2 separate regions of the Homo sapiens genome follow, and region 2 is linked to region 1. The links come from fine-mapping of genetic effects on gene expression. A gene starts in region 1. The other region holds a variant in brackets. All regions are shown on one strand. Distances are between the middles of the regions. Region 1 holds the start of ZNF555 (zinc finger protein 555). Region 2 overlaps CELF5 (CUGBP Elav-like family member 5).

Region 1 (11,513 bases):
GAGCAGCGTTTGGTTTTTGTTTTCTTCTCCAGGTAGGAGAAAGGGCCCCCATGTTCTGAAAGGTAAGCTTTGGGTGAGGAAAATGGTAAAAGTTTGTGTTGCATTGGGAGGGAAAAGAAAGTTAATTACCAAGGCTGGAGCACAACTTTAGGTAAACCCTGGGGAGGCAGGGGACACTCCGTGCTTTTTTAAAACCTGTTGCTGGTTAAAAAAAAGGCTGGAGTGTTCCCTGCTTCCCCTTGGTTTACCTCCTGACCAGCCATGGTCTTCCCTGCTAGCATAATGCTATCCCTGTAAATGCTGAACTGCCAGCGGTTTCTTGTGACGTGGTCCCCCAGAAAGATATGTCCGTGTCCTAATTCCTGGTACCTGTGACTATAACCTTATTTGTAAATAGGATCCTTGCAGATGTAATCAAGTAAAATGACATCATCTAATCCAATGGGCCCTACTCCAATATGACTAGTGTCTTTATTTTTTATTTTTTTTAAATTTTTTTCAGATTAAGTAACTTTATTAGCATCAGTTCAGCTAATAAATGCTGAAGGCAGGATTTGAACCTGCATCTACTATATTCCAAGGATTTTTTCTCCAATTTTTTAACTGTGGTAAATACATATAGCATACAATTTACCATCTTAACCATTTTATTATACTTTAAGTTTTAGGGTACATGTGCACAATGTGCAGGTTAGTTACATACGCATACATGTGCCATGTTGGTGTGCTGTACCCAGTAACTCGTTATTTAACATTAGGTATATCTCCAAATGCTATCCCTCCCCCCTCCGCTGACTGGTGTCTTTATAAGAGGAAAATGTCACATGAAGACAGAAACACACACGGAAGGTGGCCACGTGGAAGATGGAGGGAGAGACTGAATTATGGTGCCACAAGCAAAGGAACACTTGGGGCTACCAGAAGCTCTAAGAGACGAGGAATACTACCGCATCGGCATGTGTGATAAAAATGAGAGAAAATGGTAAAATATTTGTCACTTTAAAAGCACTACAGGGATCATCTCAATCAGTTTTTTGTTTTGTTTTTTTAAGTGACAGACACAACTTCTTTGCTCTTTGCCCCTGGTGTATGGATTGGAATTTAAACTCTAAGTATTAAGATTAGGTCTCCACAACTGATTTTTTACTATCATTTTTCCTATTGGAGGTTCAGGGAAAAGGGAAACAAATGAAAAGAGAGGCAATCTCTAAGTGGAGATACACTTTTGGAATGTGAAGTAGTAGTTTCTAGTTTGTTAATGCGCTCTTATGAAAACCTATTTCTGACAACCTCAAGAGTTGATGGTTTTCAAACCACATGTGCATATTTTTAACTGTCAATTTGGACTCTAAGATTCACGAGACCAAAAGCGCTTAGGAAACTCTTGCTTGCAACTTGATCTTGGAACACAGCTGTCCAACCCGGCAATACCTAGCTTTACTGCTGCAGAAGCAAAGCCTTCGGTGTTTTATGGAATTCTGAACTCAGATCCCAACGGCGTGGACTTGACTGTAAGCTAAAACCTGACACTGCCCACTGCTAATTCATCCTCACTATGTCCACTGCTAACTCAGCCTTCACTATGCTGACCTGACAGCAGGGCTAGGCTCAATGAACAGGACTCTAATTCAGGAAACACTGCAGAGTTAGACACTCCCGGGTAAGGCCCTGAACTACGAAAAACATCAGGGGTGCTGGCTGGTCCATGTGGCTCACTCAGTTGCCCACAGTGAAGGACTGGCTTGACCTTGGATGGAACTGTCTGATTCAGAGCTGTGACCGAAGCGCTCCCCTCTTCCTGAAGGAAGTGTTGCATGCAGCTGTGAGTGCTCTGAATTCAGGTTGGCTGCTAAGCCTCTGATCACATCCGACAACCCTGAGACAGCAGCAAGTGGCCCCAGTTCCTGAACTTCCCACAAAGGACATCTCCAGGTGTCGTCCATACTGGAGAGGTCAATGAACTGGTATCACAGACATGCAAAACTGCTTGAAAATGATGCCTCAGGCAGAGCCTCTGAAACTGAGGACTAAACTGAATTATTCGGTCTACACTGAGAACCCTAGGACAGGAGGCCCACAGTGGGAGGTCACACTGGGAGCCCTGCTAACCCGACTGCCTGACCAATGTTAAGTCCTGCTTGGGGTGTCCCGACCATTGCAAACAATGTGCTTCCAAGGGGACTGACTACCTGTCCCCTAGGGGGTTGGACTTGTTTTGTACTTACCCTGGCACTCAGGGCACTGCCTTGTCCCTGGAAGACACCCAGGTCTAAGTTTGACTTACTGGCCAGAGTTATGCTGTGCAGGAATTGGTGCCTCTCTCCAGTAAAAAAATAGTAACGGGGGAAGGAAGAGAATACTACAGAAACTTAATAAGCCACCTGGCTTTCTAAGACCTTTGTGGTCCAAGCATATGAAAAAATGCTCAACACCACTAATCATCAGAGAAATGCAAATAAAAAGCACGATGAGATACCATCTCACACCCGTCAGAATGGCTGTTATTAAAAAGCTAAAAAATAACAGATGTTGGCAGGGCTGTGAAAGGGAATGCTTACACATGGTTGGAGGGAATGTAAGTTAGTACAACCTCTATGAAAAGCAGTATGGAGATTTCTCAAAGAACTAAAAACAGAACCACCATTCAACCCAGCAATCCCACTACTGGGCATCTACCCAAAGGAAAAGAAATCATTCTACCAAAAAACACATCACTTGTGTGTTCACTGCAGCAGCATTCACAATAGCAAAGACATGGAATCAACCTAGGTGACCAAAGACAGTGCACTAAAGAAAATGTGGTCCATCTATACCATGGAATACTACACAGCCATAAAAAAGAACGAAATCATGTCCTTTGCAGCAACATGGATGCAGCTGGAGGCCATTATCCTCAGCAAACTCATGCAGAAACAGAAAACCAAATATGGCATGTTCTTACTTATAAGTGGGAAGTAAATCTTGGGTAGACATGGACATAAAACTGGAAACAATAGACGCTGGGGATTCCAAATGGAGGGACAGAGGGGGAAAGGGCTGACACCCTTCCTCATGGCTACCATGTCCACTATCTGGGTGACAAGCTCAATGGAAGCCCAAATCTCAGCATCATGCAATATTCCCTTGTAACCTGCACATGTGCCCATGAATCTGAAATAAAAATGGAAATTAAAAAAATAATGATTCCATTGCAGCCAATGGAATTTACCTTACCTGGCTAAGTCCAGGAGCCCTAAACAGCACAAGTGAAATCATTACTGCAGTGTGGTCTCCTCCTACTTCATAGGGGCCTCCCATAATAATTCTGTGGTAGAGACACCTGTGCAGTGGGCTAGGGGGTGGACGCAGGAAGAGCCAACCCAAAGGCCTGAGGGCCCCTAACCTTAGAAAGTCCTGCCTGCAAAGTTGGCCCTTGGCTGGCATAAGCTAGCCTGGATTTGGGGAGGGTTCTCATCCCAATAGAGGAGTTGCTTATTGTGCTGAAACTGTTTATGCAACAATGTGTTTACCCTAAAGATCTGCTTTCCTCCTGGGTGTCTGAAATCTTGGCACAGCCAGGCACAGGGGACCTCTGTGACCAGCCGCCAATTTTAAAACACCCTGGTTGGGGGCATGGTGGTTCACACCTATAATTCCAGCACTCGGGGAGGCTGAGGCGGGCGGGCCACCTGAGGTCAGGAGTTCGAGACCAGCCTGGCCAACATGGCAAAACCCTGTATCTGCTAGAAATACATAAAAATGGCCAGGTGCAGTGGCTCCCGCCTGTAATCCCAGCACTTTGGGAGGCTGAGGCGGGCAGATCAACTGAGGTCAGGAGTTCGAGACCAGCCTGGCCAATGTGGTGAAAGCCCATTTCTACTAAAAATACAAAAATTAGCTGGGCGTGGTGGCGGATGCCTGTAATCCCAGCTACTCAGGAGGCTGAGGCAGGAGAATTGCTTGAACACAGGAGGCAGAGATTGCAGTGAGCCAAGTTCCTGCCACTGCACTCCAGCCTGGGCGAAAAGGGTGAAACTCCCTCTTTAAAAAAAAAAAAAAAAAAAAGAAAAGAGAGAGAGAGAAAGGAAAGAGGGAGAAAGAAAAAAAAGAAAAGAAAAGAAAGATAGATTAGGCAGGCATGGTAGCAGGTGCCTACAGTCCCAGCTACTTTAGAGGCTGAGGCAGGAGAATCACTTGAACCCAGTAGGCAGAGATTGCAATGAGCCGAGACAGCACCACTGCATTCTAGCCTGGGCAATAGAGCGAGACCCTGTCTCAAAACAAAACAAAACAAAAAAACAAAGTAAAGGGACACAGCCCTGAGGCAGCCCCTGTGTTCGGGGAAATCTGATCAGTGCCAGGGCCGGCATTGCAGAGGATAAACACTTTAATATAAGGAGCTGGGACAAATTGTCATCTAAACAAGAAAAATATCTTGTATTCTACCTATTTCAGGAACAACAAAAAATGTATTATAGAATTAAGGTAAGGGTACTGCAGTATTGGAAGCAGAACAGAATCATCCACCGTCAAAAATTCTCTACCATGTCAAGGAGAATAACATATTTTGGTAAATTTGTATAATTTATCTGCAACATGTTTCGTGGCAATGTATTCATTTTTCTGCACGTATGGTGGAAAGGAGATTTTCTCTGTTTCTCTGAGACTCTTCTCCCCAGTAACATTTTGAAGTTTAGGCCCTGGAATCCTATTTATTGTCATTCAAAAGAAAAGAACAAGGCTGGTCGAGGAGGGAGAATCACCTGAGCTCAGGAGTTCGAGACCAGCCTGGGTAACAGAATGAGACCCCATCCCTAGAAACAAAAAAATACAAAAGCTTAGGCATGGCGGCACACACCTGGAGTCCCTGTGTTCAGAAGGCTGAGGCAGGAAGATTGCTTGAGCCCAGGAGGTGGAGGCTGCAGTGAGCTGTGATCGCACCAGTGCACTCCAGCATGGGCAACAGAGCTCCCAAAAAAATAATAGTAATAAAAGAAAACAGAAAATAACAGATCTGAGAAACGACACACACTCCAGGGAATGTTTAACAAATGGAATGTAAGACACAGATTTTAATTTTTTTCCTGAAATTCACCCCGTTGGAAGTTTTTTTTTTTTTTTGAGACGGAGTCTCGCTCTGTCACCCAGGCTGGAGTGCAATGGCGCGTTCTCAGCTCACCGCAACCTCCGCCTTCTGCGTTCAAGTGATTTTCCCGCCTCAGCCTCCCGAGTAGCTGGGACTACAGGCACCCGCCACCACGCCCAGCTAATTTTTGTATTTCTAGCAGAGACGGGGTTTCTCCATGTTGGCCAGGCTGGTCCCCAACTCCTGACCTCAAGTAATCTGCTCCCCTCGGCCTGTCACAGTGCTGGGATGACAGGCTTGAGCCACCGCGCCCGGCCTGGAAATATTTTATCTTCCAACTTCTACTAATTAAATGTACGTTTCACTTCCTAAAAACTGCTGACTCGAAAAAAGGAAAATCTTTTCACAGTGACAAACCCAGGGAGGGGTCAAGTCTGGCCAGGCTACCACGACGGACGCCCTCCCACCCCCAACTCAGGTGTTGCCTCAGCAAGGAATCCCATTGCTAGTACTCAAAACAGAACTGAGAAACGTCTTCAAATCCACACTTTCTAGGGAACCGTGAAAGAATATATTTCCGTGGTTTTAGCCCCCTCGTTTGCAGTCAGTTGCTACAGCAGTCCGAGGACACTAATGCACCAGCCTCCCGGGCGTCCCCGCTGTGGGTCTGCGTGCGTTTGCTTTTGGGGTCCTCGCTCTCCCTTGTTTCTCTAGTCTTTTCAGTTACTTTTCTTCCTTGTGTGTGAGAGCCCAGGGACCAGGAACCCTTGTTTTTTTTCCCCTTACCTACCCCAGGCATCTTGGGGTCAGAGGGGACAAGAAGTCCTCAAGAAGGAAAACCGGGACTCAGGGGAGGAAACCTCGCACGCCCCAGGGGCTGCCTTTGCAGGTGGGGGCGTCTCCGCCCCCGCCGAGGCCCCACCGCTCCCGGGCTGTCCCGGGAGGAACCCAGGGTCCCCCAGAGACCGCGGCCGGAGGCGCGGGGCCTCCAAGGAGCTGAGCCGCGGGAGCGCGAGCGGAGGCGGCACCGACCAGGGACCCGCACCCCAGGAGGCACCGCGGCGTCGGCCCCAGGGCGGGTCCCGGGGGAGCCTGGACCGCACCTCGGGGTCTCGGGCGACTCTGCCTCCCGCGGCCCGGGGGTCCCGAAGCCGCAGCGAAACGCTCCGAGGCGTCGCGGCCCCGGGCGGGGCGTGGGGGGTCGGGAGCGCAGGGACGCGGGGACCCCGGGACGACGGGGACGGAGTCGGGCTCCGGGCGCCGCTCCCCGCTCTGCAGCCTTGGGGCCAGAGGCGGGCGGGGACCCGGAGCTCGGAGCGCCCTAGCCGCGACCTCAGCGCGGGAGGCGGGGCCGGGCGGGACCCCCGGGGCCCAGGCTCCCGTCCTGCGCCGCCCTCGCCGGGGCCGCCCCCCGCGTCCCTCAGCTCCCCCCAAGCCGCGGTCTCGGGCGGTCGCCGGTTCCTGCTGCCCCGCACCGGGATCCTCTCCTGCGCCACACTCACCATGTCCCGGGGCGATTTCTTCGCTACCGGCGCAGGTGAGCGCGACAGGAACCGGGACGCCAGGGACCGCTAGGGGCAGGCGGGGCACTCACGGCTAGGACAGAGGCGTCCCGTCCCAGGGGCCTGATTAGACAGAGCTCGGGAAGCCGCGCTTCTGATTGGACAGTGCTGCCAACGTCGGCGACTCTGATTGGAGAATTCCCCAGTCCGTCCCCTGGCGCTGTAAATTGGGCAGTTCCCCGGATTCCGATTGGGCGTCCCTCATTGGATACTTGTCTCGGCCCCGCCCCCGCCCGTCCTGACTGGGTAGTTCCCTAGGGCCCACCCCCTGCCGGTGAGTGACGGGAGCGTTGCGAACACGCGTGGCTGTCCCGCCCTGCGGGGACACTGGCTTCTGGGCGAACTGGTTTCAGCCCGGGGCGGAATCGCCCTCTCCCCGCAGTTCGGGCGCCCCGCCCGCGTCCTCCTCCGGGACGGGCGTGGGAACTCCAGACTAGTTTCCTCACGAGGCGACCCCTTGTCCGGACAGGAGGTGGATGCAAGCGGGCGGCCCGGGCCTGGCAGGGCGAACGGGGGCTGGGCGCCGGGTCCGAAGGGCCGAGACCTACGTGGGGGCGGGACCCGCAGACGTGACGTCATCGCGCTGCGGGCGACATGGAGACCCCGCCCAGGGGGCTGCGAATCCGGAGACCCGGTCTGGGGGAGGCCGAACCCAAAGCCTGGCAGGGGGCAGGAGCTTTGCTCAAATCAACCAGAAGATATGAGATGTTCATTAAAACCCTCACATTTGGCTGGGCGCAGTGGCTCACGCCTGTAATCCCAGCACTTTGGGAGACCGAGGTGGACGGATCATCTGAGTTCAGGAGTTTGAGACCATCGTGGCCAATATGGTGAAACCCTTTCTCTACTAAAAATACAGAAATCAGCCCGGCGTGGTGCCGGGCGCCTGTAATCTCAGCTACTGGGGATGCTGGGGCAGGAGAATTGCTTGAACCCGAGAGGTGGAGGTTGTAGTGACCCGAGATCGCCCCACTGCAGTCTAGCCTGGGCGACAGAGTGAGACTCCATATTAAAAAACAAAAAAACTCTCAAGTTCATATTTTAAACTCTAAGGAAAATGTTTTCAGATCATTTTTTTAAGTACATCCCCCCAAAATTTGGAAGATTGAAAAGCTGGCCGGGCGCTGTGGCTCACGCCTGTAATCCCAGCACTTTGGGAGGCCGAGGCGGGCGGATCACCTGAGGTCAGGAGTTCAAGACCAGCCTGCCCAACATGGCAAAACCCTGTCTCTACTAAAAATACAAAATTAGCCGGGCGTGGTGGCGCGCACCTGTAATCCCAGCTAGGGAGGCTGAGGCAAGAGAATCGCTTGAGGCCGGGCACGGTGGCTCACGCCTGTAATCCCAGCACTTTGGGAGGCCGAGGCGGGCGGATCACGAGGTCAGGAGATCGAGACCATCCTGGCTAACACGGTGAAACCCCGTCTCTACTAAAAAATACAAAAAAATTAGCCAGGCCTGGTGGCGGGTGCCTGTAGTCCCAGCTACTCGGGAGGCTGAGGCGGGAGAATGGCGTGAACCCGGGAGGCAGAGGTTGCAGTGAGCCGAGATCGCGCCACTGCACTCCACCACTCCAGCCTGGGTGACAAAGCGAGACTCCGTCTCAAAAACAAACAAACAAACAAACAACAACAACAAAAACAAAAAGAATCGCTTGAACCCAGGGAGGCAGAGGTTGCAGTGAGTCAAGATCATTCCACTGCACTCCAGCCTGGGGGACACAGCAAGACTCCGTCTCAAAAAAAAAAAAAAAAAAAAAAGGAAGTCTATAATATTGCACAACAGGAACGTATCTAACGCCACTGAACTTTAGACTTAAAAATGATGAACATGGTAAATATTTGTTATTTGTATTTTACTACAATTTTTAGATGTTATATTTAAAACAGAAAAGGCTATATTTCTAAGGATATTGAATCCCTATTTTAACTGATATAAGAAAAACACGCAAAAGTTTAAATGAATTGGATTGAACCTTAGGAGGGAAGTGTTTTTTTTTTAAATTTTTGGTTTTTTCAGTCTTGCTCTGTCACCCAGGCTGGAGTGCAATGGCAGGATCCCGACTCACTGTAAACTCCACCTCCCGGGTTCAAGTGATTATCGTACCTCAGCCTTCCGAGTAGGTGAGACTACAGACCTGCCCCGCCACACCCAGCTAATTTTTTTGTTTTTTGTTTTTTTGAGACGCAGTTTCGCTCTTGTTGCCCAGGCTGGAGTGCAATGGCGAGATCTCGGCTCACTGCAACCTCTGCCTCCCAGGTTCAAGCGATTCTCCTGGTTCAGCTTCCCGAGTAGCTGGGACTACAGGCACCTGCCATCATGCCTGGCTAATTTTGTATTTTTAGTAGAGACGGGGTTTCTCCGTGGTGGTCGGGCTGGTCTCGAACTCCCAACCTTATGTGATCCACCCGCCTCGGCCTCCCAAAGTGCTGGGATTACAGGTGTGAGCCACCACGCCTGGCCTACTAATTTTTATTTTTTTAGTAGAGATGAGGTTTCACCATGTTGGCCAGGCTGGTCTCAAACTCTTGACCTCAGGTGATCCACCTGCCTCGGACTTGCAAAGTGCTTGGATTACAGGTGTGAGCCACCACACCCAGCCTTCAATTTTTTTTAAAAAAAGGAAAAACGATTGTGATAGGCCTGAAAACACTGAATACACTTAATAGACAGGGGCTGAAAACCAAACACAGTTAATGGTTATTCATTTCAGAAAACTCCATAGCTTAAGTGGTTGTTCAAATTCTGATATTGACATTTCATTTAGAAACAATTTTTAAAATTTATTTTTATCTTTCCTAGGAAGGTTTTACACACTTTTATAAAAATTAATGTTTAGAGGACTGACATAGGAAAGCAGCTTCCAGTTAAAAATAGTGTGCCCGGGCTCGGTGGCTCACGCCTCTAATCCCAGCACTTTGGGAGGCTGAGGTGGGTGGACAACCTGAGGTGAGGAGTTTGAGACCAGCCTGGCCAACATGGTGAAAGCCCCATCTCTAATAAAAATACAAAAAAAATTAGCCGGGCGTGGTGGCGCATGCCTGTAGTCCCAGCTGCTTGGGAGCTGAGGCAGGAGAATCGCTTGAACCCAGAGGCAGAGGTTGCAGTGAGCCGAAATCTCACCATTGCACTCCTGCCTGGGCAACACAGTGAGACTCCATCTCAAAAAATAAAATATAATTGCTGGAGGGAGATAACAAGACTGAAAACAGTACAGTCAGGAGACTTCTAAGTCAACCCTTCTCAAGAATATGCTGGAAGTTACAGATGCTTTCCCCAAAAAACACATCAATGCACCAGCACACAAAGTTGTTCTCAAAGTTGTTCACAGAGCCCCTAAAGAAACTTACTCATCAACCCAATAGGGTCTAGACTGACCATGGATCAAGGATCTCTAAGGAAAAGCAACATGTTCCATTTGGGTGAAAGGAGATCTGACGGGCAACCTCCCTCATTAGCTCAAGGAAAAAGGGAACATTCACAGGAAAGTTAGATGAGTCCTAAGAGAAAATTTGTAAAATTTTTTTGAGACAGGGTCTTGCTTTGTCACTCAGGCTGCAGTGCGGTGGTATGCTCATAGCTCACTGCAGCCTCAGCCTCCTGGGCTCAAGCGGTCCTTCCACCTCAGCCCCCAGAGTAGCTGGGACTACAGGCGTGAGCCACCATGCCTGGCTAATGTTTGTATTTTTTGCAGAGACAGGGTCAATGTTGCCCAGGCTGGTTTTGAACACCTGGGCTCAAGTGATCCTCCCACCTCAGGCTCCCAAAATACTGGGATTGCAGTTGTGAGCCACTACACCCAGCTTTCCAAGAGAACATTTGGAAAACAGTTCCCCTGCTTGGTGGCCTGGCAAATGAGGTGTGGCTTTGTACAGGGTGCTCAAGGTCAAATCCAGAGTCCACTACTTTTTTTTTTTTTTTTTGAGACAGAGTCTCACTGTCACCCAGGCTAGAGTGCAATGGCACCATCTCGGCTCACTGAAACATCAGCTATTCTCATGCCACAGCCTCCTGAATAGCTGGGCCTAGAGGCGTGCACCACGACGCCCAGATTTTTTTTTTTTTTTTTTTTTGAGACAGAGTTTCACTCTTGTTGCCCAGAGCTGGAGTGTAATGGTACTGTCCCAGCTCACAGCAACCTCCACCTCCCGGGTTCAAGCGATTCTCCTGCCTCAGCCTCCGAGTAGCTGGGATTACGGGCATGCACCACCATGCCGGCTAATTTTGTATGTTTAGTAGAGATGCGGTTTCTCCATGTTGGTCAGGCTGGTCTCGAACTCCTGACCTCAGGTGATCCGCCCATCTCGGCCTCCCTAATTTTTGTATTTTTTGGTAGACATGGGGCTTCACCATGTTGGCCAGGCTGGTCTCGAACTCCTGACCTCAAGTGATCCACCCACCTCAGCCTCTCAAAGTGCTGGGATCACAGGTGTGAGCCACTGTGCCCAGCCCAGATTCTACTCCTTTCTAATTGTGTGACCTTGAGCAAATTATTTCCGTTTTGTCTTCTGTAAAATGGAATGTGAATAGTGATTATCTCATGGGGTCGTGAGGGCTAAATGAAGAACCACATGGAAGTACTTGGCTGGTGCTTGGTATACAGTAAGCATCCAATACATGTTCATGACGATAATGCACATCAGCACTCCTGGTCTTGATTTTGCTAGGGACATCTCACAGGCGGGACTTTTCCCAGGCCACCAAAGGTCATTCCACCCTCTATGTCCCAAAGTCTACTATACTATGTCTCTACCATCTAGGTACCCACAGTCTATCCTGACTCATCAATGAGGTTCCGTATCCTTCACAATTTTGGGTGCTATTTGATTTGTATTCATTGTCAAAATGATTATGGCAATACAAAATGAAACGGCAGAAAACACAAA
Region 2 (11,513 bases), 440 kb before region 1:
GATTTGAACCCTGACTGTCAGACTCCAGAATCGAATCCCTCCCTCCTTCGACAGCCTTGGCTTTACTGGGGAGGCCTCATTACCTGATACCTCATCGTGCCATGCCCCAGCCTCAAAAAGGGTTTCCTTTCCAAAAAATCCAGAGAATCACTCTTGGTTCTGGAGAGGGCTGGTAGGAAGTCACTGCTATTCCTACGGGGTCGGGGCGAGCATGGTTCTCTTTTCGGAGGAGGAAACAGAGAGGGAGATTCCCAGGGGTCAGCGGCTGCACCGGGACTCAACTCTGGCCTGTCCAGCCCCCAGGCCGCACTCTCAGCCCCGCGGGTCCCAGAGGCCCGGGCCAGACACGGAGCCTGCAGGTGGACAGGGCGGGCAGAGGGCGGGGCTGGCGCCCAGGGGAGGTTGCGGCCGCCTCACCTTCTCGCTGCTGCTGCTGCAGGAGGGGCGGCGGCTGGGGGACGCTGTGCGCGATGGGCGTGATGGCCGCGGTGGGGTACATGGCTGCGGAGACCGGAGCGAGACACAGGGCGAGGAGGGGCGTGAGGCCACGTGGGCGGCCTGGGCCGCTGGGCGGGGAGGGGGCGGGGCCATAAGAGGGTGGGGCCAAGGCAGGAGTGGGTGTGATCATGGCCTTTGTGGGGAGGGTTTGGGGGCGGGGCCAGGCCAGAGGGCGGGGCCAAGATCACAGACGAAACGGGGAGGGGCTATTGCCTGAGGGGCGGGGCCATGGTGGAGGGCAGGGCCAATACCGAGACGGGGCGGGGAAGGGGGGGTGGGGGCGGACCCCATGGCGTGAGGGGAGGGGTATAGGGGTTGGGCCACAGTAGAGGGCGGGGCCAAGGCTACAGGACAGTCCAGAGTGGGCGGGACCATTGCTTGAGGGGTGGGGTCACAGTGGAGGGCGGGGGCAAGACTGGGATGAAGGGCATGAGTGGGGCGGGGCCGTGACTTGATGGAGGGCTATGTGGGCAGGACCATGAGTTAAGGGGCGGGGCCGCAGCAGAGGGCGGGGTCACAGCCAGGCCTTAAGAAGTAGAGCCAGAGGTAGGGGCGGGGCTTTATCAGAGAGGCGTGGTCAGAGTAAAGGCAGGAAGTGAGGGGCGGGGCTAGGAGCTGCAGGAGGGAGGGTAAGGGGCAGGGCCGAGAGCTGGGGTTGGGTCAGAGCTAGAGACGTGGTCAAGGGGAATTCCCTCTCCCCAACACAGAACATGAGAGGGTAAGGCCATGGGTAAGCGCTGTCCTTAAAGGACAAGGGAAGGTCCTGTTTGCGGGTATAGGTGGTGGTGGGGTGGGACCAGTAACAGGGCCCGGGGTTGAATACAGGACAAGGGGCTAAGGGTGGGCCCTGAGGGGCGGGGCCAGAGGTAGGAGGCGCGGCTAGGCACAGAAGAACGACACGTCCGGGGCGGGCCCTGGGGGCGGGGCCCTAGGCGGGGGCGGGGCCAGGGCCCAGCGCGGGCACGCGGGCTGCCTCCTACCTGTGTACTGCTGGACTCCGGAGAAGGCAGGATGCAGTGTCTCGGCCACAGTCGGGCTCTGAGCTGCGGGCAGACAGAGGGGCTGAGTGGGGCGGGAGCAGCAGAAGTCTTCCATCCACCCCCGATCCTTAAGAGCCGCAAGGACAGCAACAAACACCCCGCCCAGCTTCTCCTCTGTGCTAAACCCTCTGTAGGACCAGGAAGCTGAGGCCGAGGAAGGTGAAGCCACTTGCACAGGGCCACTCAGATAGCAAATGGCAGAAGCTGAACTGGAATCCGGGTTTCTCGGACTCCAGAGAGAGATCACCATCGTCCCCATCTCCCTCTCCCTATCCCGACCCGGTTGCCTCCCAAGGGGGACCCTTCACTCCTCTCTACTCCCTGGATTCACCAGGACTTCAGCCTCCACCTCAAATCACCACCTGCCCCCATCCCCTGCCCCGTCTCCCTCTCCACATGAGTTTCCTCATCAGACACCCTGTAGCTCCCCCATCTAGCTGTAGCCTTCCTGCTACCGCTAGGGAAAGGGGTAGGGGAGGGAAGAAGTTGTCCAGGCCACCAAAGCTGATGATTCTGGGGAAAAATTCAGCCAAACAATTCTGCCCGAATGGAGAGTGTGCTGGAGGGCAGGGGATAGTGGTGGTGACTGTGACTTCAAAGGGGTGGCAGGAAGGAGTTCACTTTGTGGGCAAGAAGCAGTTCTGTATCTTCACTGTGGGAGATCCACAAGTCTGCATCTGTGACAAAATGGCAATTAACCGCCCCTGCACACACACACACACACGTGCACAGAGTGCATACAAAAACTCGTGAAATCAGCTGGGTGTGGTGGCTCACACTTGTGATCCCAACACTTTGGGAGGCCGAGGAAGGAGGATCGCTTGAGCCCAGGAGTTTCGAGACCAGCTTGGGCAACATAGCAAGACCCTCATTTCTTAAAAAATAAAATAAAATCGAAAATTAGCCAAGCATAATGGCACGTGCCTGTAGTCCCAGTGACTTGGGAGGCTGAGGTGAGAGGTGAGAGGATCGCTTCAGCCCAGGAGTTCGAGAGTTCAAGGCTGCAGCGAGCTATGATCACGCCACTGCACTCCAGCCTGGGCGACAGAGTGAGACTCTGTCGCTAAATAAATAAATGGTGAAATTTGAATACCGTCTGGAGTTGAATTAATTGTATGGTGCCAGTGTTAGTTTCCTGGGTTTGACAGTGACCTATGATTAGATAAGCTGCTGGCATCAGGGAAGCTGTGTGAAGGGTACCTGGGACTGCTCTGTGGTATTTTGGTAACTCCCTGTGAACCTCCAATCATTTCAAAATAAAATGTTAAGGCCAGTCACAGTGGCTCACACCTATAATCCCGGCACTTTGGGAGGCCTGCTTGAGCCCAGGAATTTGAGGCCAGCCTGGGCAACACAGCAAGATCCCGTCTGTACAAAAATTTAAAAATTAGCCGGGCGTGATGGCACATGCTTGTAGTCCCAGCTACAAGGAAGGCTGAGGTGGGAGGATTGCTTAAGCCCCAGAGATGGAGGCGGCAGTGAGCTGCGACGACACCACTGCACTCCAGCCTGAGTGACACAGTGAGACACTGTCTCTAAAACTAAATAAATAAAAATAATTAAAAAAATAAAAAGTTAGAAACAAATTCTCCTACATGGTGGAAAGACAGATAACTTACTTCACATAAATTAGATGTTGGAAGATGTTTGCCCTAAAATTGTAGGTGTAGCATAGAGAAAGGAAGGACCTCTGCTTCATGAAAGCAGGTGCAGCCTAAATCAGTGGGTCATTCATTCTGTGTTGAATGGATAAATGAATGAATCCAGGCATTGATATCTCCCCAAATGACACAGATGAATAATTAAGATTTATGGGCTGGGCGCAGTAGGTGAATCACCTGAGGTCAGGAGTTCGAGACCAGCCTGGCCAACATGGTGAAACCCCATCTCTACTAAAACTACAAAAATTAGCCGGGCATGGTGGCATGCGCCTGTAATCCCAGCTACTTGGGAGGCTGAGGCAGGAGAATCACTTGAACCTGGGAAGCGGAGGTTACAGTCAGCCAAGATTGTGCCACTGCAATGCAGCCTGGGCGACAGAGTGAGACCCTGTGTGAAGCCTTTTGCACACAGATTAAATTGTCAATGCAACCCTCTGAGGCTACTGATGTTATCTGCCCCATTTTCCAGATGAGCAAACTGAGGCTCAGGGACGTAAAGAGCCCATCCAGGGTCACTGAACTGGAATTTAAGCTCAGAAACATCCAGATGCACCGTTTTAATGTGTTATTACCCTGCCACGGCCTCCCTTCCTGTGTCCACAGCTCTTATCTGCTCAGCGGAGACACCCTTTTTCCTGCCCTTCTGTTCCCTGGGCACTGTGATGTAGGGACTCATACTTGTTCCAGAAACACCATCTTTATTCCCCACCACTCTCCTAGGCCCCAGAGGACGACCCCAATTTACCTGGGTAGGGCACAAGGCCATTGGCATAGACGGTTTCCAGGGCAGGGTGCCCACCTGGAAAGGGCACGACACCTGCAAAGCCATTGGTGATGGGAGCCACGAGGCCAGGCACAGCGGTGGTGCCCAGCAGCGGGGGTGAGTGCAGCCCTGCAGAGCGGAAGAGGGTCATGGGGAGGCCAGTTCTGGCTCCAGCCCTGCCCACCCATCCTTGGGTGCCTGGAGGAGGCTCACCAGAGGCAGGAGCGATGGGTGTGGCAGGCAGCCCGTTGAGGCTGACGGCGCCTATCTGCTGGATGTGACAGGGTGAGAAGGCCACGCCGGGACTCAGGTAGCTGCCCGAGGTGGACAGGACTGTTGTCTGCTGTTGCATGAGCTGGGGGTGAAGACATGTCACAGTTGGGGTGATATCTGCCCTGAGATCATGGCTTATGAGGGGAGGCTTGGTACCCCAGTTACTAGTGAGGAGGTCAGGCTGGGTATCTTGGCTCAGGCTGAGATCAGAATTGGAGCTCAGACTGGGATCAAGGCTCAGCCTGGGAGCAGAGATCGGTTCGGAAGTGAGGCTCAGGCTGAGATCAGGGCTCAATCTAGTCAGGAATTGGGGCTCAGCCTGGGATCAAGGCTCAGCCTAGGATCAGGGCTCAGTTAGAAAAGCGAGGCTCAGCCTGGGACTAAGGCTCAATCTAGGATCAAGGCTCGGTTAGGAAGTGAGGCTCAGACTGAGATCAAGGCTCCATCTAGGATGAGGGTTTAGTTAGAAATTGAGGCTCAGCCTGGGATCAGGGTTCAGTCAGGAGCTGGGGCTCAACTTGGGATCAGGTCTCAGCCAGGGTGGAGCTTGATCAGGTCAGGTCTCAGTTTGGGATCAGTCTGGATTTGGAGGTTCAGCCAGAATTGGGCCTAATTTAGACGTGGAGCATAGCCAGGTTCTGGGGCTCGGTCCAAGATTGGGTGTTACTGTGAGATTAGGGCTCAGTCTTCTGGATTTAGGGGCTCGGTCTGAGCTTGGTCTCAATTTGGAGTTGGGGTTCAGCCACGCCAGGAGAGGACCCTGAGTCAGGGAGATGGAGGGAGAGGCAGGAGCCCGACAGAGAGTAGACAGAGACTGAGAGAGACGGAGCCGGAGCCCCGAAGCTGTCACTGGGTCACTCACAGCCTGGGCGTAGGCACTGTAGGGGCTGAAGGGCAATGTGAGGGACGGCGTCAGGATGCCCAGCTGGCCCACCATCTGCTGCATGCGCCGGAGCGTCCGCTCCTTGTCCGTGTCGGCGAACTTGACCACCAGGCTGGAGGAGGCTCCCTGCAGGGGCAGCGGCGAGCAGGGAGGGAAACGGGCTGGGAGGTAGCCAGGACTCTGGGGTCCCTGGATTCATGTTAGCTCAGGCCTCCTGGGTGAGGGGTGTAATGCCAGTGGCTGTCAGCCATGTCCACGGGCCCCCACCCCAGGAGCCAGGGCCACAGCGAGGACCGCGTGGAGATCAGCATCCTGGGCCCAGCAGCATCTGCACAGGTGCAGCGCCCAGGCCTAGGAGGCTGTGATGGGGCACAGGTGGGGGCCCTGACTGTCAGCCACACACTCAAAACAGATGGAGAATCCCGCCGCTGGAGAACAGGGAGGCACAGCTGGAGGCACCTATGACTTCCGCTCACCTGAGAACAGGTGAGAAACCAGCTTCCGAAGGAAAACAGTGGGCTCAGGTGGACGAACCTGCCATTGTCACCCCACACCTGAAACTCCAGTCTCCAGAGAGGAACAACTGGGGCACAGATGGGTGAGCCTCCAATTCTCACCCACACCTGAGAACAGGTGAGACTCCAGCCACAGGAGAGGAACAAGGCGGGACAAGTAGATGATCCTGACTCTGTCCTCCATGCCCTGGAGCTAGCAGGCAGTTCGGACCCGGATTTTTTTTGTTTTGTTTTGAGACGGAGTTTCGCTCTTGTTGCCCAGGCTGGAGTGCAATGGCGCGATCTCGGCTCACTGCAACCTCTGCCTTCCAGGTTCAAGTGATTCTCCTGCCTCAGCCTCTTGAGTAGCTGGGATTACAGGTGCCCGCCATCACGCCCAGCTAATTTTTTTTTTTATTTTTAGTAGAGACGGGGTTTCACTATGTTGGCCAGGCTGGTCTCTAACTCCTGACCTCAAGTGATCCGCCCGCCTCGACCTCCCAAAGTGCTGGGATTACAGCCACCACGCCCAGCCCCAGCCCCAGATTTTTGTGCCCTTTGCAGGCAGATGAACCTGTGGCCCATCCACCCAGTGGACAGCGGACAGTAGCCACTGGTGGGGACTGGGGGCCCTGCTTTGCTGGGGCACAGACAGAAACCCATGTGACTGCCATCCCACTCCATGGCTGTCCAGGTGCCACAGGGCTGGGCTGAAATCCACCAACAGGCAGCCCTGGGCAGTCGAAGCAGCGGTGAGCCAGGGAGTGTCTGTCTGTGCAGTCAGGATGCTGCAACAGGTCCTGATATCGGTAACAAGAGAAGCCTGGTGGC[C/T]GGGCACAGTGGCTCATGCCTGTAATCCCAGCACTTTGGGAGGCCAAGGTGGGCAGATCACCTGAGGTCAGGAGTTCGAGATCAGCCTGACCAACATGGTGAAACCCCGTCTCTACTACAAATACAAAATTTAGCCAGGTGTGGTGGCGCGTGCCTGTAATCCCAGCTACTTGGGAGTCTGAGGCAGAAGAATCGCTTGAACTCGAGAGGTGGAGATTGCAGTGAGCTGAGATTGCCCCATTGCACTCCAACCTGGGCGACAGAGCGAGACTCTGTCTCAAAAAAATAAAAGAGAGGCCTGAGGCAGGGGCCAGGAGGCCATTCCCACCCCTCACAAACCAGCCCACACCCCGACTCTGGGGCTCAAGAAGGAAAATATCTTCCCCTTCGACCAGCTCCTCCCTGGTGAGCTGGCTCCCACAGGATGCACCCTGTTGCCTCCCTGTCTTCGCTGACATGCCTCCTCCGATAGAGAACTCACTCCTCCAGACGCCTACCAGCCCTGTCCTGGGACATCTCTGAGCTTGGGAACACTTGCCCTTGTGCTGAACTAAGCCCCTCCCCTGGGTTTTAAGAGCTGAGAGAGGTGGCTTGTTCCTCTCAGGTCCCATCTTCCTTGTAGCAGATTCGGAGATGTGGGTGCAGGAACAATGGCTTCTGGGGACTCCTTCCTCGGGGGAAGGGCAGTCCCCAGTGCCTCCTTGGTCCTCCCCAGCCTCTCACTGCTGCAGACTCTGGGACCTGTCCCCAATCCCCACCCCTCCCTCAACCAGTGAGTCAACAGGCCCCCCATCCATTCTCACCCTAATGTCTGTTTTCTGATCAGCCCTCCTCCCTGTCCACCTGGCCCCAGCTCAGGCCTCCTCCTACCTCAGCTGGACCTTGGCCTAGCCTCCTCTTTGGCCTCCCAGCCTCTAGTCTTGCACCCTGCCCATCCTCTACATTAGCCCCAAAGGGATATTTGCAACCGACCTGGCCTGTCTCCTCCCTTGCTCTAAACCGTCTGTGGCTCCCCACTGCCCTAGGAGAAAGTCCAGGCTTCTCAGCCTCGCATTGCGGCCCCATCTTCTATGGCTCCTCTGGGCTACCTGTTGCCACCTCCCAGCCTTTCTTTTTGTCAGGGCCTCTCCTGGCCTCAGCAAATCCAACCCAGGTGTCATCCCCTTAGGATACCCTTACATGTACACACATACACACTCACCCACTCACAACCTATACTCACACAGACCTGCATATACTCACAAACGTGTACACAATCACCCACAATACTGACACACTCACAGTCATGCACACACACAAACACACACACACACACACACAAACCTGCCCACAAATGCACCTGCAGATGCACACACATGTGCTTCCTCCCCCGTGGCCCAGGCATACTCACACACACGCTCACACACATAGAAACACACATGTACACTCTCATACACGCACACGCACTAGTATCTCTACACTAGCACACAATGGCACACTTATCCATACATATTTACGCACACCCCTCGTGCACACAGCACTCACATAACACTCGCCTACTAGTAATGACACACTCAAACACGCACTCACACACACACATGCATGCAGTCTCGGGCACACTCACACCCAGACATGCACACTCACCCACACGCACACACTTGTAATACATCCATGCACACACATACACTTCGCTTGCCTACTCACCTCCACATCTGCACACACTCACACGTGTATACCCACTCCAGGGACCACAGCCAGGGACTGCGCCTCTTTCTCCACCTGTGCCCCCTCTGAAGGACAGCCAGGGGCTACCGGATGACAGCGACGGTAGGAATATGGCCTGTTTCATCCCTGTCCCCCTCACCCCTTTCCCACCCCCACCCCCACGGCCAAGGGCAGCTCCAACTCACCGGCATGGTCTGGCTCCCATGCAAGGCGTGGATGGCCGCCTGCGCCTCCGTGTGGGAGGAGAACTTCACGAAAGCACAGCCTGCTCCAAGAGAAGAAGAAGAGGTAGAGGGTGATGGGGTCACAGGACTGGCTGAGCGGGGGCCACAGGAGAGGGGACACAGAGACCTACATGGCCAGTGTCAGACACATGCAGCCAGAGAGAACTGATAACAGAAAGACAGCCAGCCGTTTGCTCAGACGGACAGCTGGACAATCAGCCAGATCAAGGGTCAGAATGGAGGAGAATCACACAGACAGACAGCCACAGTTAGACAAAGACCTGGTCACCCACACAGCCAGCCAGGCTAATGCAGACAGACAGCCACACACACAGAGACCACCAGACACAGGTGAATGGAAACACAGTCCCACCGACAAAGTCCATAGAACATACAGAGGCCACTGCACCTGGCTCCAGACTGGTAGAGTACTATGGAAGGGCCAGCCATATTGTGGAGGGAGGGGGTGGAATGTTCTGGAATTACATAGTGGTGATGGTTGCACGGTTTTATGAATAGAAAAAAAAAGCACTTCATTGTACATTTTTAAAGGGTGAATTTGGTAGGATGTGGAAGACATCTCAATTTTTTTCTTTTTTTGAGTCAGAGTCTTGCTCCGTCACCCAGGCTAGAGTGCAGTGGCGTGATCTCGGCTCACTGCAACATCTGCCTCCCGGGTTCAAGCAATGCTCTTCCTCAACCTCCCGAGTAGTTGGGATTACAGGCGCCTGCCACCACGCCCAGCTAATTTTTGTATTTTTTGTAGAGACGGGTTTCACCATCTTGGCCAGGCTGGTCTTGAACTCCTGATCTCGTGATCCACCTGCCTCAGCCTCCCAAAGTGCTGGGATTACAGGCGTGAGCCACCACGCCCAGCCCTCAATTTTAAAAAGGAAGAACCAGGTAATGGTCTGAAACCGTCAGACACATTCAGTTCTAGTAAGGTAAGAAAGACCAGAGTGGAGTCGGTCCCACATGATGAGCTCTGTGGACAGAGACCGCCAGACACCGTCATTTGGACTCTCAGGCAGGAAGATAGACAGACAGACACAACCAGAGACCACCAGTCAGTCATATGGACAAATCACATAGACAGAACCAGGAGGAAACAGTTTTACGAATAGTCAGGTGGAGGAATCTGAGACCACAGGGCACAGGTAACTCTGTCCGTGGAGAAGCCCCGCCCCTCCCCAGACCCCGCCCCATCACAAGCCACGCCCCTGCATCCCTACTCACAGGCAGCACCTGGAGAAGCCCCCCCGCCTCCCACCAGACACCGCCTCATCCCAAGGTACTGCCCCTGCATCCCCATCCATAAGCAGCCCCTGGAGAAGCCTTGCCCTTCCCCAAGGCCACGCCTCTGCATCTCCGCCCACCCCACCGCAGCCCCGCCCCTCTTCAGGGCCCGTCCCCACAGCCAGCATGCAGAGAGAGCATGCAGGTAGGATCAAGCGGGACCAGTCTCTGCTCCACCCAACCCCTGTGAACCAGCTTCTCCCAGCCAGCCCCAGCCTCCTATTGGCCTGGCCCCGCCCCACCTGGCCAGCCCCACCCCCTATATGCTCAGCCCCGACCCTTCCCAGGGCCTCTCCCCCTGGAGCCAGTCCCTCCTAACTCTACGTATTTCACCCCTCCCTGCAGTACCTCCCCTACCCAAGACCCCACCCTTGCAGCCTCACCCACAGACTTCAGCTCTGGAGAAGCCTCGGGCCTCTCCAGGGCTACATCCTCAGAGCCAGCTCCTCCCCACCCCTGCAGCCACACCTCTCCCCAAGGGCCCACCTTTGGAGAAGCCCCACCCCTCCCCAGGGCCCTGCCCCACAGGCCCCGCCCTCAGAGGCAGCTCCTCCCCACCCTGCAGCCCCATCCCCTCCCCAGGCCCCGCCCCTGCAATTCCGCCCCTCTCCAAGGCCCCGCCCCTGCAGCCTCACCCACAGACTCCACCCCTGGAGAAGCCCCGCCCCTCCCCAGGGTCCCACCCCAGAGCCAGCTCCTCCCCATGCTGCAGGCCCCACCCTCCCCACAGGCCCCGCCCCCAGAGCTAGCCCGGCCCCTCTCGCAGTCCCGCCCCGGCCCCCGCCAGTCACCTTTGCTGCTGCCGTCAGGCCCCCGGAGCACGGTGCACTCGTCAATGACCCCGAAGGGCTGGAACAGCCGCAGCACGTCCTCCTCCGACTGCTGCTTGTTCAGCATCCCCACGAACAGCTTCCGGTCCCCTGTGGGCGGCGACACCCACCTCAGCCGAGTCCCCGGCCTCCGGGAGGGCCTCCGGGATTCCTCCCTCCCTCCAGCAGAGTGGAGGCGGCAGGGCAGGAAGACGCGGCGCCCGGGCCCTGCCGGCTCCGGTTCTGCGCGTGCGAGGGAGGACCCAGCCGCGCCCTTTCCCTGCCCCGGATCTCTCCACCCTCCCACGGGCCCTGCACGCTCCCATCTCCCGGCCTTTGCCCAGGTGGCGCCCCCGCCTGGAATGCCCTCCCTGCAGTCTTTTGGGGTCTCTGCTCCACTGCTCCCCCTCCAGGCGGAGATGACCTTTCCCTCTGGTGCACTCAGAGAGCCCGCACCGAGTACTAGGGCTAGGAGCTGCCTCGCCGGGCCTGGGTCCCTGTCTGTCTGTCTGTCTGTCTTTCTGTCTGCTCCCCGGACCTGCCAGGCGGAGGTGGGCACTGATGGTCCCCGCACTTTCACGGTGCCCAGCAGAGGCCCCTGCCCAACTTTGTCGGGATCAAGAGGGGCCAGGCAGTCACCATCTGTGGAGTGGAGTGAGGGTTCACGTGCTCAGTGGACCAGGGGCCTTGGCAGGCTGGACCCCCTGCTGGGTGGGGCTGGGCTGGAACCTGGTCTGAGGCCGGAGCTGGGCCAGCCTCTCCTGTGTGAGCTCTGCCCCCTTGGGTAACTGCATGCTCCCTGGTAATGGGGAACGTGGTGGCTTCATCTCCTAGGGACGGTGAGCTGGGTTACTATGGAAACCGCTCTCGGCAGCTGTCACTCATGGGGGTGGGAGGGAGAGAGAGAAACCAGCAGAGAGACTGAGAATCAGGGAGAGAGAGAGACAGATCAGAGAGAGAGTGCGCGCGAAAGAGACTGTGAGAGACAGAGAGAATAAGAGGGATGAAGAGACAAGAGAAGAGAAAAAGGAGAAGGA

The links.
Region 2: its variant is fine-mapped to the expression of ZNF555 in cerebellar hemisphere (GTEx, PIP 0.97).

Annotation. Positions count from the first base shown.
Region 1 is chr19:2,836,630-2,848,142 of GRCh38, reverse strand. ZNF555 (zinc finger protein 555) reads right to left here and starts at 6,668. Exons shown (of 4, transcript NM_152791.5): 1 at 6,568-6,668. The coding sequence starts at 6,570. It overlaps ZNF554 (zinc finger protein 554), which reads right to left. Exons shown (of 5, transcript NM_001102651.2): 5 at 11,408-11,513. RefSeq lists silencers at 6,288-6,337, 6,378-6,677, 6,898-7,087, 7,098-7,207.
Region 2 is chr19:3,274,930-3,286,442 of GRCh38, reverse strand. CELF5 (CUGBP Elav-like family member 5) reads right to left here. Exons shown (of 13, transcript NM_021938.4): 4 at 10,459-10,587; 5 at 8,333-8,412; 6 at 5,098-5,244; 7 at 4,176-4,317; 8 at 3,945-4,091; 9 at 1,479-1,541; 10 at 418-501. Among named protein-coding and RNA genes, the nearest start is that of CELF5, 56 kb to the right of the region's middle. RefSeq lists silencers at 10,141-10,440, 10,671-10,800. The variant C/T (reference allele first, on the strand shown) is at 6,444.